Linked DNA regions of Homo sapiens. The protein of the gene in region 1 purifies or fractionates together with the protein of each later gene. This does not show direct contact. Each region holds a gene or a part of one and is shown on either strand. Other genes may lie near its edges. The genes, in order: VAPB, OSBPL10, ARHGEF12 and LSG1.

What was found.
Region 2: the proteins of VAPB (region 1) and OSBPL10 purify together in Homo sapiens (affinity purification with mass spectrometry; 6 studies listed by BioGRID and IntAct, with this or other methods). This does not show direct contact.
Region 3: the proteins of VAPB (region 1) and ARHGEF12 purify together in Homo sapiens (affinity purification with mass spectrometry; 5 studies listed by BioGRID and IntAct, with this or other methods). This does not show direct contact.
Region 4: the proteins of VAPB (region 1) and LSG1 purify together in Homo sapiens (affinity purification with mass spectrometry; 5 studies listed by BioGRID and IntAct, with this or other methods). This does not show direct contact.

What each region holds. Positions count from the first base shown.
Region 1 is NC_000020.11:58,384,427-58,392,332, forward strand, and holds the start of VAPB (vesicle-associated membrane protein-associated protein B/C), read left to right. Parts: upstream 1-4,802; 5' UTR 4,803-5,033; coding exon 5,034-5,091; intron 5,092-7,906. UniProt on the Homo sapiens protein: Endoplasmic reticulum (ER)-anchored protein that mediates the formation of contact sites between the ER and endosomes via interaction with FFAT motif-containing proteins such as STARD3 or WDR44.
Region 2 is NC_000003.12:31,977,911-31,985,382, reverse strand, and holds the start of OSBPL10 (oxysterol-binding protein-related protein 10), read left to right. Parts: upstream 1-4,120; 5' UTR 4,121-4,203; coding exon 4,204-4,484; intron 4,485-7,472. UniProt on the Homo sapiens protein: Probable lipid transporter involved in lipid countertransport between the endoplasmic reticulum and the plasma membrane.
Region 3 is NC_000011.10:120,478,950-120,486,499, forward strand, and holds part of ARHGEF12 (rho guanine nucleotide exchange factor 12), read left to right. Parts: intron 1-1,010; coding exon 1,011-1,481; intron 1,482-2,310; coding exon 2,311-2,627; intron 2,628-5,488; coding exon 5,489-5,558; intron 5,559-6,117; coding exon 6,118-6,128; 3' UTR 6,129-7,550. UniProt on the Homo sapiens protein: May play a role in the regulation of RhoA GTPase by guanine nucleotide-binding alpha-12 (GNA12) and alpha-13 (GNA13). Acts as guanine nucleotide exchange factor (GEF) for RhoA GTPase and may act as GTPase-activating protein (GAP) for GNA12 and GNA13.
Region 4 is NC_000003.12:194,668,977-194,677,059, reverse strand, and holds the start of LSG1 (large subunit GTPase 1 homolog), read left to right. Parts: upstream 1-4,868; 5' UTR 4,869-4,897; coding exon 4,898-4,996; intron 4,997-6,924; coding exon 6,925-7,051; intron 7,052-8,083. Other genes in the region: uncharacterized protein LOC124909474, read left to right, coding at 1,224-1,417. UniProt on the Homo sapiens protein: Functions as a GTPase. May act by mediating the release of NMD3 from the 60S ribosomal subunit after export into the cytoplasm during the 60S ribosomal subunit maturation.

The DNA.
Region 1 (7,906 bases):
TGCACGGGCCCCTGGGTAATGGATGATCAGGGACGGAGAGAGCAGATGTGGATGTGTGGTGAGGAGGTCTGGGAGGAGGTACTAGATACCTCTCAGGATGGGTGTGAAGACACTGGTGTCTCGGCCAAGCGCTGTGGCTCATGCCTGTAATCCCAGCACTTTGGGAGGCCAAGGCGGGTGAATCATGAGGTCAGGAGTTCGAGACCATCCTGGCCAACATGGTAAAACCCCGTCTCTACTAAAAATACAAAAAATAGCCGGGCGTGGTGGTGGGCGTCTGTAATCCCAGCTACTTGGGAGGCTGAGGCAGGAGAATTGCTTGAACCCAGGAGGTGGAGGTTGCAGTGAGCCGAGTTCGTGCCACTGCACTCCAGCCTGGGCAACAGAGCAAGACTCCGCCTCTAAATTAAAAAAAAAAAGACACTGGTGTCTCATGTGAATGCCCACTCAAAGACATCTACTGCAGCAGCAACTCTATTAATTGAGTGGACAAGAGGGCACATTCTGCAGACAACAGTCAGTCTTTCCCACAGCTGTGCCATTGCGTGCTCAATGAGCTTATTTATGCAGTGGCCATGGTGGCAGGTGTGGAGGCTCTGTATGGGCTTAGGAACATGGGCTTCCCCTTACCAAAGTGACCCGGCAGAAGAGACCAACACTAAAGCTTTGTTATGGCACCATTCCCTGGGGGAGGGCAGAGGAGCTGGGAACCAGTGTTAAAAAACCTATAAATGTGGCCAGGCACAGTGGCTCATGCCATTAATCTCAGCACTTTGGGAGGCTGAGACGAGCGGATTGCATAAACTCAGGAGCTCGAGACCAGCCTGGGTAATGTGGTGAAATCCCATCTCTACAAAACTTTCAAACATTAGCCGGGTGTGGTGGTGCCTACCTGTAGTTTCAGCTACTCGGGAGGCTGAGGTGGGAGGATGGCTTGAGCCCATGAGGTAGAGGCTGCAGTGAGCCAACATTACACCACTAAACTCCAGCCTGGGCAACAGAGGGAGACCTTGTCTCAAATAATAATTAAAAAAAAAGAAAAAACACAACCTATAACTACTTGGATATGTAAAAGAACAAAATAGAACTTATAGGCTTAAAAAAAAATAAACAAAATGAAAAACTCCTGAAACAGGTTTATCAATAGCCTAAGAGATAATTAGTGACTAGAAGAAAGATCTGAAGAACTATCCAGAACGTGGAACATAAAGAGGACAGATTAAGATGTGATAGAGAGGTTAATAGACATGGAGAAGGGCACAAGACTTTTCTCTTTTTCTTTCACAATCCACAGTAATAAATGTATTTTAGTTGTGACTCACTCCATAGATATGTGTATATTAATAAATACAACTGAAACAAAAGATTCATGAAATAATACAATACACTCCAATATATTATATTCTCGTTCTTTCTCAACACTGGTAACAATCTACTACATTGATTTTATAAGCCACTGTTGGAAAACAACCTACAGTTTGAAAAATATTAGTTGAATAACTACTAATCACACTACAAGATGTAAAGAGTGAGAGAACGAGGTTGAGATAACATTTATTTTTATTTCTTCTTTTTTTGAGACAGGATCTCACTCTGTTACCCCAGGCTGGAGTGCAATGGTATAATGGTTCACTGCAGCCTCCACCTCCTGGGCTCAAGTCCTCCCACCTCAGCCTCCTGAGTAACTGGGATTACAGGCATGCACCACCATGCGTGGCTAATTTTTTTTTTTTTTTTTTTGTATTTTTTGTGGAGATGGGGTTTTACCATGTTGCCCAAGCTGGTCTTGAACTCCTGGATTCAAGCAGTCTGCCCGCCTTGACCTCCTAAATTGCTGAGACTACAGGCATGAACCACTGTGTCCATCCAAGATAACATTTAACAGAGATATTGTCACGTATGATACAACACGGATGAACTTTGGGGACTTTATGCTGGGCAAAATAAGCCAGTCACAAAACGACAAGTATTGTATGATTCTGCTTACAAAAAGTACCTAGACTAGTCAAATTCACAGAGGCAGGATGTGGAATGATGGTTGCCAGGGGCTTAGGAGAGGGAGCATGGGGAATGATTGCTTAAGGGGTACAGAGTTCTAGTTTTGCAAGATGAAGGGAGCTCTAGAGATGGATGATGGTGAGGTCGCACCACAATAGGAATCTTGTTAATACCACTGGATACTTAAAAATGATAGAGAGTAAATTTTATGTGATGTGTATCTTACCACAATAAAAAAGTAAAATTAAATTGAAAAAAAAAAAGTATTGTCTGAGAGTTTTCAAGAATAATGAAAGACACCAATCATCAAATTCAGAAAGCCCAAAGAACTCAAGGCAGGATAAATAAAAAGATAACAGCATGAGCTGGGCATGGTGGCTCACGCCTGTAATCCCAACTTTTTGGGAGGTCGAGGTGGGTGGATTACCTGAGGTCAGGAGTTTGAGACCATCTGGCCAACATGGCAAAACTCTGTCTCTACTGAAAACACAAAAATTAGCTGGGCATGGTGGTGCGTGCCTGTAATCCCAGCGACTCAGGAGGCTGAGGCAGGAGAATCGCTTGAACATGGGAGGCGGAGGTTGCAGTGAGCTGAGATGGCGTCACTGCACTCCAGACTGGGGGACAGAGCGAGACTCCGTCTCAAAAAAAAAAAAAAAAAAAGATACAGCATGGTAAAACTGTAGAACATGAGAAGAGGGAGAAAAGACCAACAACCTATGAAGGAACGATGTTAAGATTGTCACTGGACTCCTGAGGAGCAATGAGGGGGAACAGGCAAACAGTGGATGGCAATCAAGTGTGCTGAGAGAGGACAGCTGTCATTCAAGCAAGCAAGCCAAAATATCTGTCAAGAACAAGGGCAAGGCCAGGCGCAGTGGCTCATGCCTGTAATCCTAGCACTTTGGCGGCTGAAGCAGGAGGATCACTTGAGCCCAGGAGTTTGAAACCAGCCTGGGCAACATAGTGAGATTTTACAGAAAATAAAAAAATTAGCTGGGCGTGGTGGTGCATGCTTTTAGTCCCAGCTACACCGGAGTCTGAGGTGGGAGGATTGTTTCAGCCTGGGAGATACAGGTTGCAGTGAGCCACGATCATGCCACTGCACTCCAGCATGGGCAACAGAGCAAGACCTCATCTCCAAATAAATAAATAAATAAAATAAAAACAACAAAAGGCAAAAATGAATCCATTTGCAGATGAGCAGAAACTGAGAGGATTTGCACCAACGAAGCTACAAAAAAATAAAATTTAAAGGATTTACCTCAGGCAAAAGGAGAGTGATCCTGTTGGTGAAAGCTGAGATGCAAGAAGAAAAGGTGGATAAAAATGGTAATTGTGTGGCTGAATCTAAACTAATGTTGACTGAATAAAACAATTTAGTAATGTCTCTTGGGGTTACAGTGGCAAAGGTTAAACTTAACATACACTACATTAAGGTGTATAATTTAGAGGATGGGTGATTAAAGTACTCCAAAGTCTTTATATTTTAAGGAAACAGGGTAAAGACATTTTTACAAATATTTAAAGATATTGGACTTTCACAAGGTAAGTATGCATGCCCAAAAGTTTGAAGTAACCACTAAAACTTAGAAATAGAGTATACAGGTGAAGAAAATCAGAATGAGAATAAAAATAAACCCTAAAGAAGAAAGGAAAGGGGAAAAAAACCAGGCAGGACAAATAGAAATAACAAAATACAATGGTAGAAATAATTCCAGATATATCAGTAAATATAATAAATGTAAATGGACTAAATGCTCCAGTTAAAATACAAAGACTATTCTTTTAAAAAACCTTTTTATCATGAAAAATTTCAAGTATACAGCAAAGTGGGAGAAACAGTACAAGAAAACCATATACCTGCGATGTAGAGTCAGCCATTGCTAGCAATTTGCCACATTTGTCTCACCTATATGGGTATGTATAGGAGACTATTAAGAACACCTATTTAACTTCCATAGTAAACATAATATAATGAAATACAATTTAAACGGTAATCATGATGTAGAGTATCCACTTTTGAGGTCAAGCAGATCTGGATTCTCCAGCAATTTTTAATTATTTAACTTACGTGTGTGGTTATTTATTCAAAAGATGTCTCTTCACTAGGCTATAGTAAAAGGATTGGAATCAGGTTCGCTTTTCTGATCATTGTATTTCTAAATATTTGTTGCATAAACAAATAGAATTTACTAGTAAAGAATTCAGCACAGTGCCAGTTGCATAGTAAACATTTAACGTAGAGTAGCTTGTATTTATTGTAGTTGCTGTTGTTATTGGAAGCATTCAGTAGAGTGATACAAAATAAATAAGCAATAATTGGTAGTTTATTATATTTATAATTATTATTTACAAGACGTCACAGTGCCTAGCCCATATCACTCACCCATAAACATTATACTTATACTAAGTACTTTCACTATTATTCAAAGTCTCTAACAGTGCCTGGCACTACATAAGCAAGAGAAAAGTGGAAGTTTATTCTAATTGTTATTATTGAATAAAGCACTTAACACGAAGCTGGCCCCCAGCGGGCCCTTAATAGTTTCCGCGGTGGCTGTCGTAGCTGGACTACAGACCCCGCCTCCTGAGCGGCCCGAAGCCCCGCCCCTTACTGCCCCGCAGTCCCGCCCCCGTGGCTTGTGCCGCGCCTGCGCACTGTCCCGGAAGGGGCTCTACGCGCGCAGCTTTAGTCCCCGCCCCTGGAGCCGGCGGCGCAGGGCGCAGCTTCCCGCCGCCAGAGCGGGCCAGCCTGCTGCGTGCGTGCGTGTGTACGACTCTGCGTGCGTGCGTGCGTGCGTGCGTGCCGTCAGCTCGCCGGGCACCGCGGCCTCGCCCTCGCCCTCCGCCCCTGCGCCTGCACCGCGTAGACCGACCCCCCCCCAGCGCGCCCACCCGGTAGAGGACCCCCGCCCGTGCCCCGACCGGTCCCCGCCTTTTTGTAAAACTTAAAGCGGGCGCAGCATTAACGCTTCCCGCCCCGGTGACCTCTCAGGGGTCTCCCCGCCAAAGGTGCTCCGCCGCTAAGGAACATGGCGAAGGTGGAGCAGGTCCTGAGCCTCGAGCCGCAGCACGAGCTCAAATTCCGAGGTAAGCCCCAGAGGCCGCCACCTTCCTGCCCGCGGCCTCCGCCCCAGTGCTGGAAGGACGGAGCCCGGCGCGGCGGGTGACGTCGGCCCTCGTCCCCACCCCGACGGCGCTGTCGCGGGGGGCGGCGAGGCCGGGCCGGGCCTTGGCGCTCGCCGCGCTCCCCAGAACTGCCCGGAGTGGCCGGGACCCGAGAGGGCTGGTGCGGGAGCCGGGGCCTGCGCCTCCTCCCCGACCCCCAGCCTCCTGGGACTTGCCTTCGAGGCACTTGTCACTTTGTAACTTACCAGTTTGTGATCCTCTCTAGTGTGAGCCTCCGCCGCTGCCTTTGCCTAGAAGTTTCTTCCCCTGCTCCGTGACAGTGTTGACCTCAGGGCTTAGTTGAGGTGTCAGCTGCTCAGAGAGGCCTGCTGTGACCACCCAGCCACCGTGCACACCTGCTGTCATTCCCTATTCCGTCACTGTTTCGTGGTCAGCACGGCACTTTTCATACCCAAAATCACTGTTTCAATACTAGAAGGGAAACTGCATGAGGACAGGCTCTTGTCAGTTCGCTGCTGTGTACCCAGCACACATTATACGCCTAGTAAATAAATACCTGTTGAACCAACAGATGAACATGTTGAACCAACAAATGAACCTCCTCAGGACTTCTGATGGGATTGGGCCCATTTTCCTTTCACTGCGTCCCTCATGCTGTCTCCTGGTTGCGGTGCAAGGAGGCTGCCACGGTGCTGGGATCCTTTTTCTCCGCAGAGCTGTCTGGAGCAACACCTGCGGCGATGGGAAGCCATGACCCTGGTTTCTCCCAGATACTATTACCTCTGTAATTTGTGCCTTTATGTTTTCTATGTTGTTACTTTTGTTTTTTTTTTTTTTTTCCTACCTTCACCAGGGCCACGAGGTAAAAGTTCTTGTCTGACATGCTCATTCTTTCTTTTTGCGTGTATCCAGTGATGTGGGAGGCTCTGGGGAGGTGATGGATGCACAAGACAGATAAGGCCTCTGCTCTCACAGAGCTTACCTTCCGACGAGGACAGACAAACCAACACACAAGATCATTGCAGATAGTGCTAAGTGCTGTGTAGGAAATGGAACAGTCTGACTCCATGGAAGCGTACTTTAGATTGGAAGGCCGGGTCTCCACTATATCGCTAGCACCGGACTCACAGTAGATGCTCAGTTGGTATTTATGAATGAATGAATGGCCAGAGGCTCTCCAGTTTATATGTCCTATTGGGAAGTAGTGTAGGGTAACTTACCCAAAGTTACCCAGTTGGCAAATGGTACATTTGAACCCAGACTTCAGAGTTCACGCTCTTAACCGTTTTGCTGTCTGATCGCTGGGAAATACTCCAGAACGGTGGCTGTCACTTTGCCTTCCAAGTTAACAATGTGAAATAACTCTGAATTTACAGAGAACCAAAGGCTTTCCAATTAAAATGAAAAAACCGAAAAACCCCACCAAACCTACCGTGGATTGTAATTCCAGGATAGTACTTGAGCTTTCATGATGTTCTCATGGCCTTCTGGGGATGCCAGATTGGGAAAGAAGTCCAGGTAGCTAAAGTGAAAATAGTGAGCCTTAGTTTCCACTTGAGTTGTCTGAAGTTCTTTCTCTATCTGGGAGGCCTGGCTTGGCTTCTCCTGATAATTGGTGGGTTCATTCGGTTAGTCCACAAACATTTACTGAGTACCTGATCTGTGTGTCAGATACCCAGAGAAGCCAAGTTATATCAGCTGTACTCTCCTATTTTCCCTCAACCTCCTCCCAGTACTTTAGGGAAGGGGGCAGATGAGAATAACAGCCAGGACAGGACAATGATGTAGGGTAGTCCAGAGTGCTCCAGGAGCATTGAGGAGGTCAACTCCTGAAAGAGGTGTCATTTGAGCTCAGTTATAAAGGTCGAGTAGAAGAAGGCTCAAAGAAGGAAAGGGTGGGGAACATTTCAGACAGAGGAAATTGCATGCACAGAGGCACAAACACTGAGATGACTGGGCTCCTTTGGGATGCCACTAGTAGTTTTTTTTTTTTTGAGATAGAGTTCTCACTCTGTCACCCAGGCTGGAGTGCAGAGGCGCCATCTCACTGCAGCCTCTGCCTCCCAGGTTCAAGTGATTCTCCTGCCTCAGCCTCTTGAGTAGCTGGGATTACATACAGGCATGTGCCACTACGCCTGGCTAAATTTTGTATTTTTAGTAGAGACGGTGTTTCACTATGTTGGCCAGGCTGGTCTCAAACTCCGGACCTCAAGTGATCCGCCCTCCTTGGCCTCTCAAAGTGCTGGGATTACAGGCGTGAGCCCGGCCACCACTAGTGGTTCTGAATGACAGCAACAAAGAACATTTGTTGTGGTTGCCTGGCAAGATGGGAGACAAGGCTGGTGAGTAGACAAGAGTCAGATCTCAGTCCCTTTATGCATAGATGCAGCCAGTGTCCAAGTTAAAATTGTGTTGCTTCTCCTTGAGCAGTCCTTCCTTGCATTAACTTTCTGAAAACCCCCAAATCCCAGTACAAACTCTGTTGTCTAATATGTTATGGAAAGAGGCACTCATTTGAGAAAATTTAAGATTTTGTTCAATTGTTTTACTGAAAGATGTGTGACCTTAGGCCACTTCACTCCTCAAAGCCTGGGGTGGTTATTCGGTCAATGGGGATGATGCTCGTGTCCACGTTGCCTCTTGTAGAACGTGTTTAGAAGGAATGACATGGCTGTTAGTGGCTTTGTAAGTGCATAGTACTATACAGAGATTAGACAACCACTTAACTACTTAAGTGGTTTCATCACTTCTGTACCTGAAAGGTGTGGCAGAGAAT
Region 2 (7,472 bases), on another chromosome or scaffold:
GTGATGGCTGTCAGATTTCCAGTCATTCTATTTACGTTTAAAATTTTTTCTAAGTGATTTATGCAATCTGGGTAAATTAAGGAAATGGTCCTTATATTGAGCATTTGTGTTTAGCCAATATTTTGTATTTTTAAAACATTTTTTGAGATGGAGTCTTGCTCTGTTGCCCAGGCTGGAGTGCAATGGTGTGATCTTGGCTCACTGCAACCTCTGCCTTCTGGGTTCAAGCGATTTTCCTGCCTCAGCCTCCTGAGTAGCTGGGACTACAGGCGTGTATGACCACGCCCAGCTAATTTTTGTATTTTTAGTAGAGACAGGGTTGTACCATGTTGGCCAGGCTGGTCTTGAACGCCTGACCTCACGTGACCCGCCCACCTTGGCCTCCCAAAGTGCTGGGATTACAGGCTTGAGCCACCGCGCCTGGCCTAGCCAATATTTTTAATCATACCGAAAGTGCCTTTGCAAAATTATGACAGTAAAAAAAATTCGACATAGCTGATTCCATCTTGCTTCTAACCTGTAAGCTGTCCTTGTTCATTCCCGGGCACAGGCCACAGCTAACTTTGGGAGGAATTTAGTTCATAGTCTAACCCTAAAGCAAGGATTGTAATATCCCTTTCCAAAACTATTCCCTCCTTGTTTGAACACCAAACTACCTTTGTAAAACTAATGAAAGGCCACAGGCTTAAGAGAGGTCTGAACTTTGCTAAGATAAAGGCATAGTTAAATGATAATCTGCCATTTTTCCAGAGGTCACAAGATTTCTAACCTCCCCATCACTCCTATAGATAACACCACTATTGTAAAACTTAAGATTTGTGTTTGAGGTGTTTTTCATACCCTGCATTCTGACGGACCAGTTGCCACCACCCAGTCTGGTAAACTGGCTCATCAGGTCCTGTGGCCCTTACTCAGGAACTGACTCAGTGCAAGAAGACAAACTTCGACTCTCTATAATTTCATCCCTCACCCAATCTATCAGCTTCCCCATCCTTAGCCCTCTGCCCACCAAACTATCCTTAAAAAAAAAAAAACCTTAGGTGGGCCCGGTACGGTGGCTCACGCCTGTAATCCCAGCACTTTGGGAGGCCGAGGTGGGCGGATCACGAGGTCACGAGATCGAGACCATCCTGGTGAACACAGTGAAATCCCATCTCTACTAAAAATACAAAAAAATTAGCTGGGCATGGTGGCAGGTGCCTGTAGTCCCAGCTACTGGGGAAGCTGTGAGGCAGGAGAATGACGTGAACCCGGGAGGCAGGGCTTGCAGTGAGCTGAGGTCGTGCCACTACACTCCAGCCTGGGTGACAGAGCGAGACTCCAGTCTCAAAACAAAAACAAAAACAAAAACAAAAAAAACCCCTTAGGCTCTGAATTTTCAGGGAGATTGATTTGAGTAATAATACACTCCTGTGCTCCAGCTTGGCTGGCCCTACAATTGTTAAACTCTTCCTCTATTGCAAAAACCTGCATTGGCTTTTCCGGGTAACAAGCAAGATGAAACTGTTGGGCATTACAGTATGTATTTCAAATACTTTTTGCCAACTTATTATGTATTTTCCAAATTGTTTTTCAAACATAAAGACTTTTTCCTCTCCAAACATAATTCTGCAGGTACCTTTTCCCTATTTGCTATACTACGGTAGGTCAAGGAAAGCTTTCTGGAAGAAGTGACTTGTAATCCATAACTCCATGGGTGAGAAACACAAACCGGGTGAAGAGAGCAGGGAACAGTGTCACCAGCAGGAGGAACAGCATGTGCTTCATCACTCTTTCATGATATAGCCTCTACTTTCAGCACATCTGCTCCACTCACCTCTTGGACATTTTTGATCCCATACGGCTGGCTTGCTCCTGCCCCATCCTGGCCTTGACTATTCCTTTTAGCTTAGTTCCTTCCCCACTTGAACTGGTCTATCTCAAGGGTCTAATTTTTTAGTCCAAGGTGAGAATTTGTTGTGCTAGCTCATTCAGTCTTAGGTTGGCTGCATAAGGTGGAGTAATGGTGGCATAGGTTAGGTAATATGAAATAAAATGACACTTCTCCTCTTTTAGCAGGAGCTTAAGGTGGCAGTCTCCAATAAAAGGCATGTTGTTTTGGTACATAATGCTGACATTTATAGTCCAGTATGCACCTACCTTCCCACCTTCAGTCTGTATGTCAATGCAGGACTCAATGAACACTCATATATGATCAGTAAGTTAGCTTAGGCAAAGCTATGCTGTGGTAAAAAATAATGCTAAAATCTCAATGGCTTCAAACAAACATTTTGTGCATGTTACATGGCCAACACTAACTGGCTTAGGATCTGCTGTATTCCACACCTTCTCACTCCAGGACACAAGCTTAAGGAGAGTCCTTATCCGGGACATGCTGCTCTCCTGGGATAAGGAAAAGAGAAAGATGGTGGAACCATATGACTGCTCTTAAAGCTTATGTTTGGAAGGGGCATTCATTACTTCTGTTCACATTCCATTGCTCAAAGCAATTCCATGGCCAAGCCTAAGGTCCATGTGGAGGAAGGATACTCTTTCCATAGGAAGCGGCAGTAAATATTTTGAACAAATGAACATTCTTGCATAGTTTATTACAGCCGGTATCATTTGTCCCATTTTGCAGTGAGAAAACTAAGGCTAAAAGAGGTAATTTGATCAAGGTCATAGGTTAGAATTCAGCTCTGAATGGCTTCAAATTTGGTCCAGGCAAGCTCTTTTCAGATTTTTTTTTTTTTAACACTATGTAGGCACCTGGAATTGTAATTTACTCAGGGGCACAACCACTTCTCTTCAACTCCAGAAGCTTCTCCGTGCATCTCTAGAGCTAAACCACCCATGAAATCTTCCTGGAAGGATGTGAAGCTAGAAAGGGGTTGGGCTCGGGGAACTGTCCCTTTGAGAGCTGACTTTTCCATTTAGTAATTTTTTTTAACTCTTGAAGTATTTATCTGCTTGATGGGTTTGTAGATCCTTTGGACGGAGATCACCTATCATCTATCACCTTTTGTTTTGTCTGTGTGTGTGTGAGAGAGAGAGTCTGAGTTCCTCAAAGCTTTTTTCTAGGTAATTTTTGATACTTCAGATTACAATGGATATCTATATTCACAAAAAATATTAGTGGGATAGAAAGAGTATCTTTAGGTAGGAAGAGGGGCGCAGAAGTTACAGCCAACACAGAGAATCCTTCAATGTTTGTAAATATCTGTTAATTTCCCTTGCCTCTGGAGCAGTTTTCCCGGTTTCAGAGCCTCTGCTCCTAGGTGCACGTGCAGTGTGGTAGCAATGGATAGGTTTTGACTTGCCAGGTTTATGCGTGCCATTCAGGGCAGGGGATTAGGGTTAGGCCAGTGAGTGACCTAGGACACTCAATTTAAGGAAGCACTCGCACAAACCTGAGAGTTCGCGCGCCTCACCCCAGCCCAGCCGTGTGTCTGTTAAGCATTTATCATAATCCTGCTGCATGAAAATGCCCGGCGAGCTTACCTGTGAGGATCACCTGCCACTCCCCTCCTCCGCCAGACAACGCGGAGGGCCTCCCTGAGCTGTGACTTTGCTCCGCCGGTGATAATTTCCAGGTTACTGTGTAGGAGCGTCTGGCGCAGCATCGTGTGCGGAAGACCGAGAGAGGGAGTGTGCGTGTGAGCCTGTCAGGCCGGGCGGGTCCATATCCGGGTGGACCGGGTGGGTGGGGCTGCCCCTCCCTCCAGGTCCCGAGGTGGATAAGGGGTGGGGAGTGACGTGCAGAGATTCCCTTTCGCCCCTTCGGATCCAAGAGAGGGTGGCAGAAGGAATGCGTGGGTGACTTGGCGTGGATTTAGGGCGTGCCCACCCTGCAGATCGGCCTCCTAGAGTGTCCCGAGGGCCTGAGAGGCCGCAGGGACACGAAGGAAGAGAAGGAGGAACCCGAAGAGGGCTCGCCTAGCCGGCCACCCGCTCCGAACTTGCCCGGGAAACTAGTGCGGAGGGAGGGGCCGGGCCCTGGCCGCGGCGGGAGGAGGGGCGGCCGCAGCTGCATCCAGCCCCGTTGGCTTCCTTCCCAGCTCTCCTTCGCCTCCTCCTCCTCTTCCTCCTGTATGAGTCAGGCATTTCCCGGGGATTTGGAGCAGGCACGCGCGGCCCGGGCGTCCGGAGCTGTAGCAGCAGCAGCAGCCGCCGTGCCGGGGCCGCCACCGCGGCGGGCACCCGCGTCCCGGGCGCCCACGGACCATGGAGAGGGCAGTCCAGGGCACAGACGGCGGCGGGGGTAGCAACAGCAGCAGCCGCAGCAGCAGCCGTGCTACCTCGGCGGGCTCCTCGCCCTCCTGCTCTCTGGCGGGCCGGGGGGTCTCCAGCCGGTCGGCGGCGGCCGGGCTCGGCGGCGGGGGAAGCCGCAGCAGCCCGGGCTCTGTGGCCGCTAGCCCGTCCGGGGGAGGCGGCCGCAGGAGGGAGCCGGCGCTCGAGGGCGTGCTCAGCAAATACACCAACCTCCTCCAGGGCTGGCAGAACAGGTAACGCGCCAGCCGCCCGCGCCACCGCGCGCCGCTGTGTGTGTGTGTGTGTGTGTGCGTGCGTGTGTGTATGTGTGTCTGTGTATGTGTGTGCGCGCGCGATTGTGCCTTCAGCGAACCCAGTGATGCCTCCCAACGGTGCCCTTCCTGCGTCCCTGCTCCCCTCCAGGTGGGGTTCTCAGGATGGGGCGCGCCGTGGCTCCACCCCGGGACCGCACCGCAGTGGCGGGGAGGGAGGCGAGAGCCCTGGTTTTCTTCTATGCTGGCACCTGCAGAGACTGGAGTGGTGGCAGGAGGATCGTGCTGGTCCCCGTGCTCTGCTTGTCCGCGGTTTCCCGCACGCCTGAAGAATGACTGGGAAAGGGAGGCAGAAGGGGCGTGCTTTGTGCCGGGGTGAAAAAGCGTTAGCACGTCCGCTCCGATTACAGTAATTCTCTAAGTAACAGTTCATTTTAAAGTTTGGTGTTTCAGAACACCACCACCATCAACAAAAAACCTGCCACTTGTCATCCTGGGCGACTGTGCATACTCCTGCCCCAGTTTGTGCCTTGCAGCCTCCGATGTTTGTAATGGAAGTTTTGTTTAAAAACAGAAAGAGGCCGGGCGCGGTGGCTCACCTCTGTAATCCCAGTACTTTGGGAGGCCGAGGCGGGCAGATCACGAAGTCAGGAGTTCGAGACCAGCCTCGCCAACATGGTGAAAACCCGTCTCTACTAAAAACAAAAAAAATTAGCCGGGCGTGGCGGCGCGCCTGTAATTCCAGCTACTCCGGAGGCTGAGGCAGGAGAATCGCTTGAACCCCGGAGGCAGAGGTTGCAGTGAGCCGAGATCGCGCCATTGCAATCTAGCCGGGGCGACAGTGCGAGACTCCGACTCAAAAAAAATAAATAAATAAAATAAAATAAAATAAAATAATAAAAAGAAAGAAAAAATACCCTCCCCCTTTTAATATTAGTAGCAATTTACATTATTATCATTATTTCCTCTTCAGGTCCCATTTGAAGTTTCCTGCTCACTTCCCCCTTGCAGTTGAGAAGCCTAGTTATGGACACGTGGAAGGATGGGGCTGTCGAGGAAAGGGGCTCAGGAGGCACTTGGAATGGTGGTAGTGTGTGTGATCTGCCATCGTGAGGAAGACAAGAACAGATGTGGCACTACTGTTTACTTTTTGTTTTTGTTTTTTTTTTCAATTTGTTTTCCAAAAACAAGCCAGAGGGAAATACAAGTGTCAGTGCGAGGAGAACAATGCTTTTTGGAGAGGTGGTTGGTGGGATATTTTGTCCTGCCTATTTAACAGTCTCCAGATCTTAATAGACTTGGGGCTCTTAAGGATGTTTGTGAGATTTGAATTATACCCTGGAAAGTTGCTTATCTCTGCTGCATGGACTATATTACTTGGTTATCTCTTCCTGTAGATTGTTTGGAAATGTTCAGATTTGCTTCCATCTGAAACATATCAGCCAGTTATCTGCACGAAACTCAACTTGGAGGAAGAGGTCTTTTGAAGTATGGAAACTGAGTTGTTTCTATATTGATATTCTACATATAGGACTTTCTGAGTCACCTGGGCTTCCTGGGAGATGTGTTACTATGTTAGTGGAAGTTGCACTTAACTTTTGAATCCTTTTATTTCTCAAAATAGTCCTAGTGTCTGCTGTTGCCTCTCCCTTCCCCTTTCAATTCGTGAAAGCTGAAAAAGAATAGGTAGAATGCGTAGGTAGAGGGAGATATGAGATGACTAAATCTGATTTCAGTTCTTGGTAATTATGTCTCGTTAATGGCAACTCAAGGTGCCTTGTCAGTAACAGCATTTTGTTGGTGTGTTGAGCAATCACTTAATGCTTTTTCTTCAAGTAGATTATGAGGCCAGCAAAGCTTTTACCCTGGATTACAGTTATTTTATTATTTACTTGCTGGGGAACAATATTTTACCTTGCAGTCTGTATTAAAGGATTTGTTATTTGGAGTGGATTTAGGAGGCATTGGAGTAACATTCTTTTGCATTATTTTAAACCCATTGTGGTGTTTAGATTGGAGGCAAGGTTGAGAAGAAGCACATTTAATGCCAATAATAATACCTACGTGATAGCAGGCTACCTAGGTGAAATGTGGTATTAAGTACACTCCTGAGCATGCTTAAGTGATGTCTCATCTTTATTGAGTTTGTTTACTGCAATTTATAGCTGTCTGCCTATGTTTGTTCTTACCACAGTAGACTCACCGTTTTCCAAGTCTACCACTGACTCCATAAGCATCGTCTGTAATTGTTAACATCTCAGTGTCAGGGTTTCTATTTCCCACATTTTGTTCTTTGAACGATGGCTGAGGGTCCATTAGTGGTTTGGAGAAGATTACGATGACTCTGTGCTTGCAAAATTCTCCCTTCTCTAGGGGTCTTATGAAGGGACAGATGGATTAGTGAAAAGGAAGAGAGAAGAGGATAAAAATAGAAACTTTGAAAATGTATTCATTTGTTCAATTATCTATTCACAGACTGTTTTATTGAGCACCTACTATGTGGCAGGAACTGTTCTAGGAGCTGGAGCTACCACCCTTCCCTGGTCCAGGGAAATGCCTTAGTACAAATAGTTAGCCAACTGATTCCTGCTGCCTTTCTTTCTGGGCCTCATAGCATCTTCCTTTGGCAGTTCTTTTCAAAGTGCCCACAGTTAATGACAAATCTATAGCAACCAAGTTCTTGGTTCATCCTCTCAGGCTGCTGTGCAATTGTAGTGCTCTTCACCAGCTCCCAGGACTTAATACCAATCACCCACTAACAGTTTGTACCCTGGTGTCCTCTTGCATGTTCTCAAGTTGCTGTAAAACTTATATTTTAACACTTGGCATCATATTCTGCCTTTATTTGTAGCCTCATCCTCATGCCCTTAGGAAGGCAGTTTGGGCCAGAACACAAAATAAACGACATAAAGAGAGGTCACAGAGAAGAACACTGTATGATGGGAACGTGCTCAACTCAGGAGAGTAAGT
Region 3 (7,550 bases), on another chromosome or scaffold:
AATCTAGTCAGAAATAAGAGTCAGAAAAGGACTACCACTGCTTCCCCCACCTCCTTCCATTGTACTTTCTTTTTTCTTTCTTTTGATTTGGTAGAATTATAGGCTCAGTTTTAAAGCATGTCAAGATTAAGATAATGAATGACAAAACACTAAAAAGTGAGTAACTAGCAGGAAGTTAGAGTTTTAGGAGTGAAACTTTAGAGAGAGGTTAGGAAGAGATAGAGATGTGAGCATCAGAGCCATGAGACTTCCTGGCATCTCTCAGGAAGTGATTGTAGAGCAGAAGGACAGAGGATGAGAGACCTAAGTGGAACCTGTTGCCTAAAGAAACATGACAGACATTAAGCTAGTGATGAGAGCAGAGAATTGGTTATTTAAAACCTACAATATTTTTTATACCTTCTCCTGAATTAACAGTCTTAATAATTTCTGATGGTTGGAATAACATTGTCCCAATAACTCTATCATTGTCTGGGTGACCTCATAGCATACACTTGGCCCATTCAAAATTAAATTGGTTCTTATTTTCAGTAAATGTATGTATCTCATAAAATTAGAGGAAATAATATGCATATAGTGTCTGGATCTGGAAAAAGCAGAACTTTTTTTTAGCTTTTTCTGTCTAGCTTAACACAGCCTTTCAACATTCTTAAGAAGTACCTTTAGGGTATTATTCTAGTTATATAGAAGAAAAAATAGAGGCATGATATTGGTTATTGAGGAGTTCTAAATAGTAGTATCTCCCTATTCAGAATGCTTAGATCTTTTCAAGTTTAGTTTAACGTTAAATCTTCTCTAAAAGATGGTGCTTTATTTCATCTTCAAAACAAAATGGAAAATGATTGTATGAAGTAAGATGATTGTATGAAATTAATAATTAACATTTTAATATGTCATTAAAAGATACTTTTTAAAGATAGATCATTGGTAAGTCAGCTAATTTAATTCTTGCAGCCTGAGGTTATAGTTGTGAATATGTTTTTTTTCCCCCTCCTTCCTAAATCGTTTAGTGGGTTTGTTGAAGCAGTTGCTGGTGCAACAGCTAGGTTTGACTGAGAAGAGCGTTCAGGAAGACTGGCAACATTTCCCAAGATACAGAACAGCCTCTCAGGGGCCGCAGACAGACAGTGTCATCCAGAACTCTGAAAATATTAAGGCCTATCATTCTGGTGAAGGACATATGCCCTTTAGAACTGGAACTGGTGACATTGCAACTTGTTACAGTCCACGGACTTCAACTGAATCTTTTGCTCCACGGGATTCAGTGGGACTGGCACCCCAGGATAGCCAGGCAAGTAACATTTTAGTAATGGACCACATGATTATGACCCCAGAGATGCCTACCATGGAGCCAGAAGGGGGTCTTGATGACAGTGGAGAGCACTTTTTTGATGCCCGTGAAGCACATAGTGATGAGAATCCATCAGAAGGTGATGGAGCAGTTAACAAGGAAGAGAAGGATGTTAATTTACGCATCTCAGGCAAGTATCTTTCACACTTAAACTTTGATTTTGATTTTGATCATTGTTAACTGTCCTGTATTTTGAAATGGATGTTGTATTGGTATCCAGGTGTGTGTGTGTGTGTGTGTTCACACATGTGCAATATTTATTCCTTCATTTGATAAATACTGAATCTACTCTGTACCAGACCTCATCATAGGTGCTGGGAGATATAGCAGTGAATAAAACACAGAAAAATCCCATCTTCTCATGAAGCTAGGGGAAAGAAGGATGGTAAATAAGTAAACAAATAAATAGACTTCAGGAAGTATTAGGAAGAAACATAAGTCAGACTGAGGGGACGGAGAGTAATGAAGGCAAACAGGGTGATCAGGGATTAGGACCTCCGATGAGGTAGCATTTGAGCAGAGACCTCAATGAAATGAGGGAATAAAGCCGGGTGGGTACCTGGGAGCTTACTATTCCAGCAGAGAGCAGAGTGGGGCAGAGGCTTTGTGTCAAAGAGCAAGCTTTTTGTGGTGATCGAACACTGGATGAGGGAGACAATGGCAGGAGATGGGGCAAGAGAGGCGTTTGGCAGGGGAAGTGGTAGCAAGATCATTTAGGCACTGTAGTTTCCAGCTTTAAACTTTTGAAATGAAATTTTTTGGAAATTACCATGAAAGTTTGCAGAGTTTAGCTTTCATCTGAAGTGAGGAAATTCTGATGTACCTGAAACTAAACTCAGGAATTAATGGCTTTTCCCTCTCTTAATAACTTTTCAAGTTGAAGTTGTCAGCACACTATGCTATTTCTGTTTTCTAATGGCAGCACTGGTCTTATCAAACTATTCTGTCTCTATCCATAGGAAACTATTTGATCCTTGATGGCTATGACCCAGTGCAGGAGAGTTCCACAGATGAGGAGGTTGCTTCCTCACTTACCCTGCAGCCCATGACAGGCATCCCTGCTGTGGAATCCACCCACCAGCAGCAACATTCTCCTCAGAATACTCACTCCGATGGGGCAATTTCACCATTCACCCCCGAATTTCTGGTCCAGCAGCGCTGGGGAGCTATGGAGTATTCCTGTTTTGAGATCCAGAGTCCCTCCTCTTGTGCAGATTCACAGAGCCAGATCATGGAGTACATTCATAAGATAGAGGCTGACCTTGAACACTTAAAGGTACCTCATACTTCCACATCCATAGGACTTGGTTGTAAGAAACATTTAGCAGAGGGGAAGAATAGGGTGATGAAAATGCTGATGTCAATAAACTTGTTCAGGTTCTAGATTTCTTTGACTATTATCCATGAATAGGCCTGGGTAAAAAGTTGAGATTGGCATTGTTTATCTTTTTCTTTCTTTCTTTTTTTTTTTTTTTTTGAGACGGAGTCTCGCTCTGTCAACCAGGCTAGAGTGCAGTGGCGTGATCTCAGCTCACTGCAAGCTCTGCCTTCCAGGTTCACACCATTCTCCTGCCTCAGCCTCCCAAGCAGCTGGGACTACAGGCACCCGCCCCCACGCCCAGCTAATTTTTTGTATTTTTAATAGAGACGGGGTTTCACCATGTTAGCCAGGATGGTCTCGATCTCCTGACCTCGTGATCCGCCTGCCTCGGCCTCCCAAAGTACTGGGATTACAGGCGTGAGCCACCGCGCCCAGTCGGCATTGTTTATCTTTTGACTATCACAAGAGCAGAAAAAGTTGCAGCTCTGTGAACTGTGTGTTTGTATGGGTGTCTAAGTTTAAGAACCTGAAATGCTTCGGGTAGTTGGCTGGCCTCTGTCAGACATGAACAAGAAGATGAGATAGGTAGGGTTTATGTAGTTATGAATCTAGGCTGAGAAATGCTATGACTTTCTGTAGCCTATTATCTGTGACTCATTAGGTGACATTGGCAGCTTCCCAAATCCTATGACAGATAGAAATTGGCTTCAGTGGCTCCTGTAATCTAAAAACATGGTCATGCATGGGATTTTTGTAGATTGGTAATTGAAGATGTCACTATTGCAAAACTGACTTGTGTGGCAATTTCCAAGAGAAAGACCTATCTTAAAGTTTTCCATCAGAGGCAGGGCACGGTGGCTCACGCCTGTAATTCCAGCACTTTGGGAGGCAAGGCAGGCGGATCACGAGGTCAGGAGATCGAGACCATCCTTGCTAACACGGTGAAACCCCGTCTCTACTAAAAATAAAAAAAATCAGCCAGGTGTGGTGGTGGGCGCCTGTAGTCCCAGCTACTCAGGAGGCTGAGGCAGGAGAATGGCATGAACCTGGGAGGCGGAGCTTGCAGGGAGCTGAGATCACGCCACTGCACTCCAACCTGGGTGACAGAGCGAGACTCTGTCTCAAAAAAAAAAAAAAAAGTTTGCCATCAGAAAACACAGCTTCCAGAGCCCAAACATTTTCCTCATGACATCATTTACACCAGAGACTTGAGGGGTAGATTTAAGTATCCTTAGCCTTTGAGTTAAAGACTGGTCTCCCTTAGTTTCTCTTTTACCTTCATATAATTGATTTTTCCCTCTTCATGTTACTTATTTTATGTAGTATCATTCTGTAGCTGATGAGATATCGACAAGCCCATTGAGGACAGGTCGGTTCTTATATACAGTCATGTGTTGCTTAGCAATGGGGATATATTCTGAGAAATTCATCATTAGGCATTTTTATCTTTGTGTGAACTTCACAGAGTGTACTTACACAAACCTAGATAGAATATATCTTTATTTACATAGATTTTTTCATATGGAAAGCCAAATCTCTCAACACTATTACTGAATATTAGTCATTTCCCCTACCTGATCAGCAATGCCATTATTAAGTGCCACACACCAGGTTTCTACATGTGCTCCATAATAATCTTTTTTTTTTTTTTTTTTTTTTGAGACAGTCTTGCTCTGTCACCCAGGCTGGAGTGCAGTGGCGCTATTTCGGCTCACTGCAACCTCTGCCTCCCAGGTTCAAGCGATTCTCCTGCCTTGGCCTCCCAAGGAGCTGGGACTACAGGCACCACCACCATGCCCAGATAAATTTTTTTTTTTTTTTAAATGGAGTCTCGGTCTGTCACCCAGGCTGGAGTGCAATGGTGCAATCTCGGCTCACCGCAACCTCCGCCTCCCGGGTTCAAGCGATTCTCCTGCCTCAGCTTCCTGAGTAGCTGGGATTACAGGTGCCCGCCACCACACCCAGCTAATTTTTTTCTATCTTTTAATTTATTTATGTATTTATATTTTTTGAGACAGAGTCTTGCTCTGTCGCCCAGGCTGGAGTGCAGTGGCATGATCTCTCCTCACTGCAAGCTCCACCTCCCAGGTTCACGCCATTCTCCTGCCTCAGCCTCCCCAGTAGCTGGGACTACAGGCGCCTGCCACCATGCCCGGCTAATTTTTTTTATTTTTAGTAGAGACGGGGTTTCACCATGTTAGCCTGGATGGTCTCGATCTCCTGACCTCGTGATCCGCCTGCCTCGGCCTCCCAAAGTGTTGGGATTACAGGCGTGAGCCACCGCGCCCAGTCCCAGCTAATTTTTATAATTTTAGTAGAGACAGGATTTCACCATGTTGGCCAGGCTGGTCTGGAACTCCTGACCTCAGGTGATCCACCTGCCTCGGCCTCCCAAAGTGCTGGGATTACAGGCGTGAGCCACCATGCCCCACCCATAATAATCTTAAGGGACCATCATCATGTATGCAGGCCGCCATGTCTTTATGTGCTGCATGACTATAGCTCATGCACATGATGACGGGACCATGTCCAGGGTGACTCCTGGGGGTGGGAGAATTGCATCTATGGTTACCACCTCTACTTTCTTTTTACATGGGAAAATACTAAGTTATTCCTTCAGTGGAGAAATTGGTAAAAGGAATGAAATTTACTTTTTTCTTCCCACTAATGAAATTTTTAATGATGAAGTTAATATTTTTGAAATTTGGGGGCTTGTACCTGTAATGTAAAAAGGGCTTCTTTTCTGTTTTCTGAAGTTTTTGTTTTGTTTTGTTTCATTACGTTTGAATAAAAAACCTATGGGTTTTATTTCACAGAAGGTGGAGGAAAGTTACACCATTCTTTGCCAAAGGCTGGCTGGATCAGCCCTCACAGACAAGCACTCAGGTATGTAAAAGTTATGAGTTCCAGACTCTAGACTAATCATCCTACACTGAATGAAATGACTTATCATACTTTGAAGTGAAAACCTTCTGAGATTCCATTTCTCTTCTGTCTTTAAAGAACTGCCTGTTTCTAAACATCAGATATCAAGCGGAAGCTCATGCCTGCTGACTCTACTCTTCTCTAAGAGGAACTGCAGTTGTCAGTTCCCATACCATCCCCTCTTCTCTCTCTTTTCACCTTTTCAAAGCAGAAGGCAGAGCAGTGGGAAGCCTGGTAAATCACAGATTCGGTGTGAGGCTTACTGGTACTGCTGTGACTCCCTAGTGTGGAGGATTTGGCCTTATTGGATGTTGGTGCACTTGCCTCTGCTGACAGTGTGGCTGGTGTCTCCCCTGACTGCAGATGGATTTGTGTTCCCTGCAGCAGTTTATACTCATCTGCTTACATACTGATTCAGAAACAAAGATTGAACCACGCCCACAGATGTCATGGGTATTCTTTGCAATGTTAGTATATTCTTTTTCTTAATATCATTTCCATGTATCTTTATTCTTCTCAGATAAAAGTTAGAGCCGCATGTCCTGGAGGTGACTGCAGGTTGTTGGATTTGGAGTATCGGCCGTGTCTCACCACATCCTGGCTCCAGTGTGGATGCAGAGAGAGTGTGACAGAGGATCTGCCTGTGAACCACCTGGGATTAGTCAAGTCCCAAGGTGCCCAGAGTGGGACTAGTTCTTCACAGTGTGGCAGCTGCACTAATCTGTTTGTGAGGGAATATCCATTCCCTCACTCTACTCTCCTCACTATCGGAAATTCATTTTGATTCAGAATAAAAACCAAATGTATAGAGCTTTGGGTGTAGGATATGAAATTGTACTTAGATTTAAGAAAAAGAGAAAATCAGATGTATTTATTTGACTTCATTCCGTATTTGAAAGCACATTTTAATTTTTATTTGCCTTGTTTTGTTTTAATTGAGTAGTGAGAGTTTTAGACCTTTGTCTTTAGTACACCCAAGGATCAACTGCTCCTGAAGCAAAGAGGTCAGGATGGAGTATGCAGAAGTTGGGTAGAGAGGTTAAGAAGAGGAGGAAGTGAGACGGGGAAGGGAGGAGCACCTTGCTTCACTATACAGTATTCCAAGCTCTCTGCTGTCCAGTAGGCTGCTTCTCTGAGGGTCACCTCAAAGGTATGCTATGCCGTGTGGCTCTTATGTGCCCAGGTGGTGTGGTCAGAGAGTGGATGGGCTTCCTCCCGCCCTGAGGCAAGCACCTCTTCTCTGTAGCTGGGATCAACCACAATTAATAGGAATCCTCAACATACTAAATAGCAGGCACTTGAAAATGGGTGTGTTTTCTTCCATTGTCGTCTTTTCTATTGAGGGTTGGGATTTGGGTGGGAGAGGAAAGCAAATTTTATTTTCTTGACTATAAATTTGTTATTCTTGGTATCATTTCATTTTTATAATTATACATTAGACATTGGCACTTGTGTAAAACTGTCCCTGCAGATTGAGCAGGAAGTAAAAACAAATGGAAATGCTTCGGATAGTGGCAGGGGTGGGGGTTGCTAAGGAAAGGGTGGGATGGGAGTGGGTAAAGAGTTTGGGAAGGTTATCTAACTGAATCACTACTGAGTTGAATCATGGCTATCATTAGCCACAGGTACTGCTGATTATAAGGCCAGTAAAATTTTAGTACCTGGAGGTTTGACTCTAATTTTTGCACTGATGGTGCCAAAGGGCCCTGAGTCAAAAGGATAGCCAAGGGTGGAGTGGAAAAAGATATGGTGAAGGCAGAACTGCTCACACCAGCTCCAGAAGCACGTCCTCTGACTTCACTGCCGCAGCTCTTTCCACACGGGGCCGTGATTGACCCTAAAAATTGCAGACCAGCACATACACTGGACACTGCAGGCAAGGTGTTGGTAACTGCCTGCTCTAGGATGAATAGTAGCGTTAGCAGCACCCTACAGAGGGTAAGTTTCAGAATT
Region 4 (8,083 bases), on another chromosome or scaffold:
TCCATCACCTTTTCCTCATACGACATAGTTGTGCGTTCCAGCACCATCCAGGTTTACATGCATATATATATTAGGATATTTACTATGGTTTACATGCATATATGTATTAGGATATTTACTATGGGGAATTAAGGAGATGGATCACTTTCAGAGACAAAACATAAAATCCTGGTGGTCAGAAGCCCTCTTAATGGAGTAAGGTCTACCTGGTGGTGTAGTTCATGGCTCCCTGACTTGAGCTCTTTAACCCTGGCTGAGTCTCTCTATTAGGCTGATCACCACTAAAGTGTAAGCTCTTCAGGGCAGGGAGTTCGTCCAGTGCTGAATCCTCAGAGTCCTGTGATGAATGAACCAATGAATGAATGAATGAATGAATGAATGAATGAATGAGTGAATGAATGAATGGATGAGTGAGTGAATGAATGAATGAGTGAATGAATGAATGGGAGAAACCTAGGACTTTCCATGTACAGATTTTAGAGTTGGTGATTATTAATTCTACTTCTAGCCTCCTTTATTTTACTTTATTTGCTTAACTTAACCCTATTGAGACTCAACTTCTACAGCTAAAAGTGCAGTAAAATAACAATACCCTTTTTCACTTGACTGTCAAGAGGGAAAAAGTAATTGCAAAGGCATCTCTGAATAAAAGACACTAGATATTCCATACATAACACGAGTTGAGAAAAAGTTCGTGGGTTCAAATACATAGGATCTTGTGGCCTGTGTCACCAAAGCAAGAGGTCTTTTACACATTTCCTTGCACAGGCAAGAAATCAATGTTTGATTGCAGGGACTCAAATTAATCATTATAATAGCCACCAATAAATGTCTGCTGACAGTAGGGTGACTATGGTTGACAATATTGTGTTGTATATTTCAAAATAACTAGAAGAGAGGATTTTGAATGTTCTTACCAGAAAGAAATGATAACTGAGGTGATGGATATGCTGAATACTCGGATTTGATTATTACACAATGTATACATGTATCAAAACCACCTCATACATACATACAATTATTATATGTCAATTTAAAAGATTTTTTAAAATCTGCTGAATTATGAAACTCGTGAGAATCCACCCATTTTCAATAGGGATAAACTGAGAATGGCAGTTAATCATAGGGAGTTTCCCTACTGATTCAATTACGCTCTACAGAGGCTGCCAGTGTCTATTTTCACAACTCTCAGTCTTATGCAAACTGTTTTAATGTCCTTGTAGAAGGAGGTGGTGTATCGTATGGGAAAGAAGGAGAGACCAGACTGCAAGCTCGCCTTGGAACAACTTTTCTGCCACCAACTCATTTTTGGCCAAAGTATGACAGGAAAAACAACAGAAACCAACCCACTCTTTCCTCTCCTTCCTCAGACAGATGTGGAGCCCAGAGGCACAACAGTGTGGACTTGGAAAGCTGAAAGCAACTCCAAAGTTTGTTGCTGGGTGTGGGTTTCAGAGCTTGTAACTACATTTGTTGAGACGCGGTAGAAATCAAGCATTATGCAACCCCATGAATAGGGAACACTCCCTGTGTCACTATTTAGAAGCTGGGTGCCAGGCTTCCAATCCCCAAATCAATGCAGCCTCCTCCAGGAGCCAGCTTTTCAGAGAATCCTGGCTTTAACGGAAGCGTTCAGCTACGTGGGGAATCGGGAGGATCTGGCCCATCTTCCAGTCACAAGCCTGGTGGGCGACAGTTTCCGCTGGCGTGAGAAAGCAGTGACAGGGGTTCGGCTAGGTATTGCTGTTCCTGAAGTGTGTGGGTGAAATGGTTTCTGCAGTTGGAGGGCAGGGACCTGGACTGATTCATCTTTGCAACCCCCTCACTTGGGCAGCAGCCAGCACCTTGCTCCACCCTCCGTCACCACCATCATCACTCCCCCACGATCTTACCTCCTTCCTTTTAATCTGGGTCCCATGATCTTGTCTCATCAACACCTTCAATTCCTTTCCTCCTTGTCCTTCTCACTGAACAGTTATCCAGCTGGGCTTTCACCGTCATTGCTTAGTTTTTGGGGAAAGAAAACGTGTTCAGCTGTGCCAGATGATACCCCCACAAATTACTAGGCAATCACCTTGCAGCATTATCTCATTTGTTACCTCTTCAGGGCAGGAATTGTTATTAGCCTCATTAACCAGATGAGAAGACTGAGACTCAGTTGTCTGTCATCGGTAGATTTTCGTAACGTCTTGGGAGAAATATTAGGATTATCTATCCTTTTCTTGTCAGCTAGGAGTAGTTGCTGCTAATTAAATCTTTATGACCTTTTGACTCCTCACCACTCCTGATTATCACTTTGGTTTATTTGGTTAAGTTTTTTTTTTTTTTTTTGGAGACGAAGTTTCGCTCTTGTTGCCCAGGCTGGAGTGCAGTGGTGCGATGTGGGTTCACTGCAACCTCTGTCTCCCGGGTTCAAACAATTCTCCTGCCTCACCCTCCCGAGTAGCTGGGATTACAGGTGCATGCCACCACACCGGGCTAATTTTTCTATTTTTAGCAGAGACGGGGTTTCATCATGTTGGCCAGGCTTGTCTCCAAACTCCTGACCTCAGGTGACCCACCCGCCTCAGCCTCTCAAAGTGCTGGGATTTCAGGCGTGAGCCACCACGCCTGGTCTTATTTGGTCAAGATTTTTTAAGCCCTTAGAAAAGTAACAGTGGAAAACCAAAGTGTTTATTTTCTCCAGAGGTGACAAAATCTGGAAAAAGAAACTAGATGAAGTCCCAAGTTCCTGGTTGAGCTCTAGGAATGAGATGGTGAGTTTCTTTATCTCACCTCCTAGTATTATTATTAAAATGTGAAATCTTACTTCATGAGTTAGTTTGACCTTTAACCACTTAGCTCTGGAGAGAATGCCGGGAGCTGTCTGCTAATTCTATTTCGTGGGTCTTCTTCATATCTTACTTCTGGAGATTATGTGTAGGATTTTAAAGATACACTGTTTCTAAATTGAGAAATGGGAGAAATGATGTTCTGATGCATTCCTTTGCTCATCTGTGAGCACTGCCTTCTCAAAGCGTTGCCAACTGCTTCACAGCTTGCCAGCAGTCCCTTGGGCATTTCCCAAAACTCACTTCAATTCAGTAAGAGGGGTAAGGTGCAGCACACAGAAACCCTGGCAGGGAATTCAGAATGGGTGGGAGTCTGGACCCAGTTTCGCCTGATGCTAACTTGCTATGACTGACCTTTAGCCAGTCCACTTCTGTGTCTTCATTTGCACCAGGAAAGAGTGGACTACGCTTGCTACTCAAAGTGTGACCCAAGGACCAGTACTATGGGTATCACCTGGAAGCTTGTTAGAGCCACAGGCCTCACCCCAGAGCTTATGAATCAGAATCTGCATGTTAACAAGATTCCCAGGGGATTTATATGCACATTAAAGTGTGAAAAGCCCTAGGTTAAACAGATTCTTGATCCTATTTATTTCTTTTTGGCTGTTGTTTTAATTGACAACTAAAAATTGTTTATTACTTACGTTGTACCGCATAATGTTTTGATATATGTGTACATTGTGGAATGGCTAAATCAAGCTATGCTAGGTAATATATGCATTACCTCGATCCTATGATTTAAAAATACATGTTTGGCCAGGCGCAGTGGCTCATACCTGTAATCCTAGCACTTTGGGAGGCCGAGGCGGGCGATCACCTGAGGTCAGGAGTTCGAGACCAGCCTGGCCAAAATAGTCAAACCCTGTCTCTACTAAAAATACAAAAATTAGCTGGGTGCGGTGGCACGTGTCTGTAATTCCCGCTACTCGGGAGGCTAAGGCAGGAGAATCACTTGAACCCGGGAAGCAGAGGTTGCAGTGAGCCGAGATCATGCCTTTGCACTCCACCTGGGGGACAGCGAGACTCTGTCTCAAAAGATAAAAATAAATAAATAATACATGTTAACAACCCTCATTCCCCACTCTCCCCAGGGGTGTACAGGCTAGTGACAAGACTTGGGTTTATTCCTGACACTGCACGCACTCAATCTACGACTTGCTCAAGCTGCTTCCTCTCTCCAAGCATCAAAACAAAGAGATGGTTCTCTGGATCAATGAGAATGTAGTTCACCAGCCACTCTAAGCTGACTTTCTATTATTCCCATTATAGGGAAATCAAACATTCAAGTGAGGAACAAAAGCCCAGGCCTCTAGGAGTGGAGCTGGCTCACTGTTTTCACTTTCATTTTAATTATTTTTAAAAAGGGTAATGAAAATATAATTAGAACTGTTTAAACATTTTTTTTTTCTTTGAAATAAAGCGTAAGTCACTTCCTGTTGGCTTTTCCTACAACCTTGCCAAGCTCTGGAAATACTATTCAGCCTCTCATTCCAAATTCACATCCAGGCGAAGACTTTTCTCCCCAGTTCGCAGCTGGGGTCGGCTAGATAAACAAAAAGTTAGTTGCTGTGCTGGACCTCGGAGAGACCACACCTCGGGACGCCAGCAGAAAACCAGCGCTGGGAAACGCCCCCGTCCCAGCGCCACCGAAACACTCTTCCTCCGAGTCTCCGCGTCCTCCTGACGGAAGCAGCGGAAGGCGGAGCTAGTGCCGCGAATAGGAACCGCCATGTTTCCGACGTGCTCTAGTTTCTCGCCGGACGCTAAAGACCGACGCACAAATTAAGAATGGACCATTCTTTTAACTCAGTCATTTATCCAAACTCGAGACATTCGCCAGGAAATCTATCGAAAATTTCCCAGAACCATTTTTTCACTTATATTCTATAATACTGGTAAAATCGAGACGTAAAAGGAGAACTTGAGAACAAGTCATTCTGCTTTCCCCTCTCAAGTTTGAGCCTGAACTACTTGGGCTCGCTTATCGTCACTTCCGGGGATCGAACTGTGAATCCCGGAAACTGCACGCGCCGAGCCGGGAAGCTTCGTCCAGCGGTCGTGTTGCCATGGGCCGGAGGAGAGCCCCGGCCGGTGGGTCGCTGGGACGGGCCCTTATGCGCCATCAGACTCAGCGGAGCCGAAGCCATCGTCACACTGACTCCTGGGTAAGACAGACCATGTCATCTTTCTTATCTTTTCTGTCTAGCCTGAGTGCTGCAAAATTCGGGGTCAAAAGTCAGATAAGTTTTGCAGGAGGGACGCCTCAGCCGGGTTTTGAAGGATGAGTTGGAGTTTCTGCCAAGCTGAGTAGCAGGCCCTCCTCCTGGCAAGGCCCAGAACACAAAGGTAGGAGAAGCTTGAAAGAAGAGTTAGTGTGGTGATGAGGCGTGGAGTGAGAATCTGAAGAGTCTTCAATGCCAGGTCTTGAGTACGTTTGGGTTTTGCCCTAGAAGCCACTGAAGTGCTTGGAACTTCCAGAGCAGGAAAAAGACAAAACGTATTTTTGTATTGATTTGTTCAAAGAATGGATCCTCCAGAAGCGGTTGGTTACTGCCAGAAATATAAAATAATTCAGATCCTTGCCTCATCCTTGCGAAGCACCCCCTAGTGGTTTAGCTCAAAGATAAATCATTGATTTTTCAGGTGTGACAAGACCTAATATTTTACTAGGTTATAGAAGGATCTTTAAAAAAATGAATGAAGTGATTTGGCTTGTGTTCATCATTCTAGTCGTTATTTTCACCATTCATTCCCCCGGGAATGAATGAGAACATGTTGAGTGCTAAGATCGTGTGCTAAATTTAGTTAAATATGTCCCTGGAGCTAAGTAAGCGTGTGCCACTGTCACACCAGCTGACTTTCATCCATATAGTCTGCAGAGTAAACAGCATGGAGTGCTTATCAGTATTCATCAGGTCAGAGTTACTCTGGACATTAGATTACTGGTAATTTTTATTAGCTTTGAAGCAACTTGTTACTAATGAAGCCTTTTAGGAAACTGTGGGAAGATTGAACATGAATGGTAAAGAATTGGATCCTAATTCCTTATTTTTGCTGATTCTATGCCCACTTAAACTTTTGGCCCTTAATATTTATTTAGGAAATTCATTCATCATTCAGTTATTCATTTTTAGAGACAGGGTCACACTCTGTCACCCAGGCTAGAGTGCCAGTGGTGTGATCATAACTCACCAATTCACTACAGTCTCAAACTTCTGGGCACAAATAATCCCCCTGCCTCAGTCTCTTGAGTAGCTGGCATTACAGGTGCACACCATCAGGCCTGGTTGTTTGGTTTTGTTTGTTTGTTTTGGAGAGACAGGGTCTTGCTGTGTTGCCCAAGCTGATCACAAACTCCTGGCCTCAAGCAATCCTCCTGCCTTAGCCTCTTGAGGAGCTGGGGTTACAGGCACAAACCACCACGCCTGGCAATTTTTTTTTATTTGTATCTATACTAAGTATATAGCTTAGGGTGATGGTTATCAAACTCTGGGTTGTGTCTGGAAGTCAATTTAGTGGTCTGCAGCTAGCTGTTTTGTTTTGTTTTTATTTTTTCCCCAGCAAGATAGAGAAATATCAGAATGTTGCATGTAATAGGGTGTGGTTTCAGTATTCTTCTATTGCCATTTTACTGTACTGAACGGTACTTGAATGCTTGTATCATTATATGTACATACACCTTTGGGTCACTATGTAAAATGTATTTCTTATTGTGGGATTATATCAAATAAAGTTTTGACTAATTTTGACTAGCACAGTCAGACAATCTGGGTTCAAGTTCTACCTGTGCCATTTAGATTTTGACTATAGGCAAGTTATTTTATCTGCTGAAGCCTTAGTTTCATCATCAGTAAAATGGAAATACAGTAAAATTCACCTCAAAAGATTTTGAAAATTAATGAAATGGTGAAAGGGAACTGCCTATTGTGAGGTAAGAACGTGTTCCTTTAAACATTAACTATAAGTAGTATTGATTCTAAAGGGACTACAACCACCCTCAAGACCATAGACTAGTTGCAAGGAATTTTAGAGCTTATTGGATGCCAAGAGCAGAAGAGAGCAGCTGTATTTATCACCCTGTGTTTTTTCATAGTTGCACACAAGTGAACTCAATGATGGCTATGATTGGGGTCGTCTTAATCTTCAGTCAGTGACTGAACAGAGCTCCCTTGATGACTTCCTTGCTACTGCAGAACTTGCAGGAACAGAGTTTGTAGCTGGTAAGTTGTTTATTGCTGAGTGCAGGTGAGACTGTCACATTTCCATCTGGGGCTGAGGTTTTTTTTGTTTTTTGTTTTGAGATGGAGTCTCGCTCTGTCACCCAGGCTGAAGTGCAGTGGCGTGATATCAGCTCACTGCAGCTCCGCCTCCTGGGTTCAAGCAATTCACCTGCCTCAGCCTCCCAAGTAGCTAGGACTACAGGCACGCACTGCCACGCCTGGCTAATTTTTGTATTTCTAGTAGAGATGGGGTTTCACCATGTTGGCCAGGATGTTCTTGATCTCCTGACCTCGTGATTCGCCTTCCTTGGCCTCCCAAAGTGCTGGGATTACAGGTGTGAGCCACCGTGCCCGCCCTGAGTCTTGAACAATGAGTAGATGTTCAAAGGACAGATGAGATAAGACCTTTTACACAGACAGGCAGAGGACTCGAGCCCAGATGTGAAGCAGCAGCCAACTTTGTTCAGAAAATGGCTAGAAGTTTGGCTTTGCTGGTGCAGGGGGCGGGATGTGATGAGCACAGGTGCTGAGGAGGTGGGCAAGGGCCAGATTCTGGAGAGAACAAAGGTTTAAGGCTTTACAGGGCTTTAAGCACGTGTACAACATGATTTCAGATTTCATTGTTTAGTGTTTTTTGGGGGGATGTGTGGGTTCCAGCTTTAATGAGCTACACAATTGGCAACTAAAAATTGTATATAGTTATAGTATATAGTGTGACGTTTGGTTATATGTATATATTGTGAAATGATTACTAAAATCAAGTAATTAACGTATCCATCACCTCACATTGTTTTTTTGTGTGTGCGGTGAGAACAAGATATATACTGTCTTAGCAAATTTCATATTATTAACTAATAAATGTGTTATTATTAACTATGGACACCAGGCTGTACATTAGACCTCCAGAACTTATTCATCCTGCCTCAGTAAAACTTTACCGTTTGACCAGTATCCTCCTATTTGCCCCACTCCCTAATCTCTGGTAACCACCATTTTCTCTCTGCTTCTATGAGCTCGGCTTTATTCCACGTA